2 separate regions of the Homo sapiens genome follow, and region 1 is linked to region 2. Evidence: fine-mapped expression QTL. A gene starts in region 2. The other region holds a variant in brackets. All regions are shown on one strand. Distances are from middle to middle.

Region 1 (2,916 bases), 98 kb before region 2:
ATGGCAACAAAATGAATTATTTGCAATGAATGTGATTATTCACATAGAAACTGCAAAGACTCTATAAATTATTAGAATAAATTAGGCAATTTAGCAAGGTAATTGAATATAATAGTGATATAAAATTTAACTGTATTTATCTGCATCAACAACAAACAGAAATATAACATTTAAAATACTCAACAGGCCAGGCACAGTGTCTCACGCCTGTAATCCCAGTACTTTGGGAGGCCAAGACGGGCGGATCACTTGAGGTCAGGAGTTCGAGACCAGCCTGGCCAACACGGTGAAACTGCATCTCTACTAAAAATACAAAAATTAGCTGGGCTTGAACCCAGGAGGCAGAGGTTGCAGTGAGCCGAGATCATGCCACTGCACTCCAGCCTGGGTGACAGAGCGAGACTCCTTCTTAAAAAATAATAAATAATAAAATAAAATACTCAATGATGATGGCAAAATAAACTGGTAGCCAGAAATACAGATATTTTAAAAATAAGCAGAGCCTCAAGTGGAAAATTATACAACTATACAACTCCCTTGAAAGACATTAAAGACATATTTATATCAAGAAAGACATTTCTCCCCAAATTGATTATATAAATATTCAGGCAATTTCAAATGAAATTCTAATAAAGTTTTTTGTGAAACTTGAAAAGCTAATTCCAAAAGAGAAAAAAGCCAAAGACAGCCACGACATTTTTTGGAAAAGAAAAAGAAATCAAGACTTACCTTAGAAAACTATAGCAATTAAGATAGTACTTTATTGGTGCAAAAATATTAAAAATAGTTTAATTAAACAGAGTAGAGAGTGCAGACACAGTACTAGACATACGACAAAAGAAATATCACAGGTCACTAGGAAAAGTATACCCCTACTCTATAAACACCACTAGGACAATAAGCTATCTGTAAAAAAATTTTTTTTAATTTGATTTCTACTTCACACTATTAAAAAATACAGCTCCAAATGGATTAAAGACTTAAATGTGAGACCGGGCATGGTGGCTCACACCTGTAATCCCAGCATTTTGAGAGACCGAGGCAGGTGGATCACTTGAGGTCAGGAGTTCAAGACCAGCCTGGCCAACATGGCCAAACCCCATCTCTACTAAAAATACAACAATTAGCTGGGCTTGGTGGTGTGCACCTGTAATCCCAGCTACTCAGGAGACTGAGGCAGGAGAATCACTTGAACTCATGAGGCGGAGGATGTAGTGAGCTGAGATCACACTACTGCACTCCAGCCTGGATGATGAGACTCCGTCTCAAAAAAAAAAAAAAAAAAAAAGACTTAAATGTGAAAATAAAAGTCTAAATTTTTGAAGAAAATATGAATGACCTTGAGTTTAATAAAGGATTTCTAAACGAGTTATCATAAAGGAAAACTGAGTTCTATGCTCAGATATATTTGGCAATATAAAAACTTCTACTTACAACGTCATAAACAGGGGACTT[C/A]ACTTCTGGTTCTGATGAACTAGCCTGTATCAGAATGTTCCTGGCAAAAGCAATTTGAAAAGATTAATAAATGCCCAAAAAATCTATCTGAAGGCATTGCAAAGATATCAAAGCAGCCAGGGCTTAAGAGGTTAAAGTTCTCTGAGCCCGCCGAGGTTAGTCTGACATTCTATGCCATCTTCTGCCAATTTGTCAATAGCACCAAGCTAAGAAACTGAGAAGAAAGTGGATATAAGAGGTTGAGCTGTTTAGCAAAGCTTTCCACCATCACAACAGTACTGGAGAAGCAAAATAAGAGCTCAGGATCTAACAAGGAGAAAGGTCACAGGTTGCATTAGTCTGTTTTCACACTGCTATAAAGAACTACCCGAGACCGGGTAATTTATAAAGGAAAGAGATTTAATTGATTCACAGTTCCGAGTGGCTGGGGAGGCCTCAGGAAACTTACAATCACGGTAGAAGGTAAAGGAGAAGCAAAGGCACATCTTACGTGGCAGCAGGAGAGAGAAGTGAGAGCACAGGAAAAACTGCTGCTTTTAAAACCATCAGATCTTGTGAGAATTTCCTCACTATCACAAGAACAGTATGGGGGAAACTGCCCCGTGATCCAATCACTTCCCCTCCTCCACACGTGAGGATTACAGTTCGAGATGGGATTTGGGTGGGGACACAGAGCCAAACCATATAACAGGAAAGCACACCCAGGCTTTCACTTGAATTTCAATGAAAGGGCTGTCCCTTTCACTGAAAAGGGCTATACGCCAAAAGTGAGGGCAAACCAGAAATAAGACGCCAAAAGTGAGGGCAAACCAGAAATAAGACAAACCTCATGAAGACTGAACCCAGTGATGTGCCAGAGCTGGCTCATATCAACTTCTGAGGAGCCAGTTGTTAAATTTACATTAATTCTGTGAACCACCTGTTAAATGCAGCCATTATTTAAAATGATTATATGAACTTACAATTAAATAAATTATATTTAAAACAAAGATGATGACCAGGCACTATGGCTCCTGCCTGTAATCCCACCACCTTGGGAGGCGAACGTGGGTGGATCGCTTGAGTTCTAGACCAGCCTGGCTGACATGGTGAAACTCTGTCTCTACTAAAAATACAAAAATTAACCAAGTGTGGTGACGCATACCTGTAATCCCAGCTACTCAGGAAGCGGAGGTGGGAGGATCACTTGAGCCTGGGAGGCAGAGTTTGCAGTGAGCTAAGATTGTGCCACTGCACTCCAGCCTGGGCAACAGAGTGAGACTCCCACTCAAAAATAAATAAATAAATAAATAAAACAAAGATAATAAAAATTCAATGTTTTCCAATTATTTTACAATATTTTATTATTATTGATGCTTCGAGGTTATTTCTTTCTATAGCATATATATGGTAGAAACACTATATAATGGTGTGCTAACTATACATCTCTTTCCAACATCACACTTAGTGACCTCAGGTTGG
Region 2 (2,916 bases):
TATTCTACAAAATGAATGTATTCCATTCATTTTGCCATTCTCCTACTGAACAACTTTTAGGATTTTGTAGTTTTTCATTTCCTTATTTCACCAAGTGTAAGATTCCATTATTGTAAAAAGCATCCAGTTTCAGAAATTAAAATATATGGGGGCATGGGGGGTGACAAGTGCATCTTAGAATATATTTTTGCATGTAAATATTTTGTAGATAATGCTTGTAAATAATTTTCATGTGTGTATTTCTGCACAAGTTTCCTAGGAGTAAAATTGTGTGTCAAAATGAAGGTGCATTTTTAAATTTTGATGCATACTGCTGAATTCCCCCCAGGAAACCTTATCTTAGTCATCTTGTGTTCCTCATTTCCTTAGCACAATGTCTGGTACTTTTTTAGGTACTAAATAAATGTTCAGTGGGTGAAATGCATGACCTGACCCGGCAAATGCAAAGTATTTTGAGATATTCACACACCAAAAAACCCACAAAATATGACAATGACTGACAATGAGAAGATGAGAATATTTTACTACCGTATTTGTATGCACTTCTTGTTGAAGCACTGACCAGAGTAAATGACAAACGCTAATGCATCTTATGCAGAAGGATGTTTCCGAAGTGATTACAAGATATCTTGCAAAATTACCTATCAAAAGATTGCACACTCAATAAAAATACACGAATAACTCCAGCATTTTACAACCCCCAACCTACTAGACATAAGAAATTTCCAGAGATCTTATGGTCTGCCATTTTTTCAAATACCTGCAAGACTGCCTGCACCCCCGACCCTAATCTGTAGAAATCATGATTCTGCAGGTCTGCAGTGGGGGATGCATTTAACAAGCGCTCCAGGTTAACCTAATGCACTGTAAAGCGTGAGAACACGTGCATTAAAAGGGCTTTAAGAAGTGGAGTTTCTGAATCAGATTTGCATTTTAGAAAGATCCCTCTGGCTGCAGAGTGTAGAATCAACTATAAGTGAGCAAAGATAGCTAAATGGCATTATTCAGCCCAGCGCATGAACGGCTCAGATTGCCCGCGCGCTGGGGTGCCCCCTGCCGGCCCTCGGCAGCGCCTCGTCCTGGGCCTGGCCCTGGGCGGCCGGCTGCTGACTGCGACTGCGCGCTCCGAGGCCTGCAGAGACGGCCCGGGGCACCTGTTACCGCACCGCTCAAGACCGGAAGCGGAAATGGAATCGAGATAGCCTCGCGCGTTTAGCTGGCCGCCGCCACCTCCACGCCCTAGGCCGGGCCGACTTACGGAGTCGCCGGAAGCGGAAGTCGCTGAGGGGTGGTGAAGCGGTTGGGAAAGTGTCGGTTTATCTTCGCGCCCCTTGCGTTCTTGCCGCGGCTTGCCTGGGCAGGTAAAGCGCGATTGCGAGAGCTCGGCAACCCTGCCGACTCAGCCGGAACCGGCTCCCGGCCCGAGGGGCGTGGTGTCCTGGTGCTCCGACTCCTTCCGCAGGCTCCTTGGGACCCGCGGTTCCGGGAGTCCCTTGCTCAGGGTCCCTTTCCTGCAGTGAGGCGCCGTCCGCCTTCCCTGTGTCCCCGCAGACCCCCATCATGGGCAATACCAGCAGTGAGCGCGCCGCGCTGGAGCGGCATGGTGGCCATAAGACGCCCCGGAGGGACAGCTCGGGGGGCACCAAGGACGGGGACAGGCCCAAGATCCTGATGGACAGCCCCGAAGACGCCGACCTCTTCCACTCCGAGGAAATCAAGGTGCGAGCGGTGTGGAGGAACCCGATTCCCCTTGACTAATGTTGAGGAGAGGAACCCTCCACTAGATTCCCGTCACATCCTTTCGAAAAACACCAGAACGGAGAGGGAGGTGGTACATTACCCGGTGCACTTAAAAGCCAGATGGTCCTGTAAGAGTTCTCTTAGCGGTCCAAGAACCTGTGTCTAATTACCAATATGAGAAAGTCACCCTGAGGGAGGAGGTGCTCACTTGGTTTAACATCATTAAGGAGAAAGCAGCTCTGGGACAGAGTTTCAAATTCTTAATTAATTCAGAGTCGAGCTAACAGTAATTGAGCCCCAGCTTCTGCTTTTCTCTTAGGTGTAATTAATTGCACTGCTTTGAGACAAATTCCCTCACCTTTACACAAACTGGAGCTTTTGTAAAAGTTAGTTTGGGAATTTATCCATTTTGGAGGCAAACCAGGTACATATACAAGCTGAAAGTAGAGCGGAACAGCTGACGGCAGTTGCCAGAGGTGTTTAGTTCTGCCCAACACTTTTGATTCACCCTACTTATTTTTTAAAAGACGGTGGTCTCACTAATTAGCCGGGCGTGGTGGCGGGCGCCTGTGGTCCCAGCTACTCGGGAGGCTGAGGCAGGAGAATGGCGTGAACCCGGGAGGCGCAGCTTGCAGTGAGCCGAGGTCGCGCCACTGCACTCCAGCCTGGGCGACAGAGCTAGACTTCGTCTCAAAAAAAAAATATAAATAAAAATAAAAAAGACGGTGGTCTCACAATGTTCTCCAGGCTGGTCTCGAACTCCCGGGTTCAAGCAATCTTTATGCCTTGGCCTCCCAAAGTGCTGGGATCGCAGGCGTGAGCTACGGTGCTGGCCGGTTCAGCCTACTTTTTTTTTTTTTTGAGACCGAGTCTCGCTCTGTCGCCCAGGCTGGAGTGCAGTGGCGCGATCTCGGCTCACTGCAAGCTCCGCCTCCTAGGTTCACGCCATTCTCCTGCCTCAGCCTCCCGAGTAGCTGGGACGACAGGCACCCGCCACCACGCCCGGCTAATTTTTTATATTTTTAGTAGAGACGGGGTTTCACCGTGTTAGCCAGGATGGTCTCCATCTCCTGACCTCAGGAGATCCGCCTGCCTCGGCCTCCCAAAGTGCTGGGATTACAGGCGTGAGCCACTGAACCCACCCTACTTATTTTTTTTTTTTCCTTCTTTGAGATG

The links.
Region 1: its variant is fine-mapped to the expression of PRKAB1-AS1 in skeletal muscle (GTEx, PIP above 0.99).

Annotation. Positions count from the first base shown.
Region 1 is chr12:119,568,833-119,571,748 of GRCh38, forward strand. The region is part of intron 1 of PRKAB1-AS1 (PRKAB1, TMEM233 and CCDC60 antisense RNA 1); the gene reads right to left. Among named protein-coding and RNA genes, the nearest start is that of TMEM233, 23 kb to the right of the region's middle. The variant C/A (reference allele first, on the strand shown) is at 1,456.
Region 2 is chr12:119,666,685-119,669,600 of GRCh38, forward strand. It overlaps PRKAB1-AS1 (PRKAB1, TMEM233 and CCDC60 antisense RNA 1), which reads right to left and starts at 1,443. Exons shown (of 3, transcript NR_188494.1): 1 at 1,259-1,443. It overlaps PRKAB1 (protein kinase AMP-activated non-catalytic subunit beta 1), which reads left to right and starts at 1,449. Exons shown (of 7, transcript NM_006253.5): 1 at 1,449-1,719. The coding sequence starts at 1,561. RefSeq lists a silencer at 926-1,195 and enhancers at 1,296-1,705, 2,144-2,779.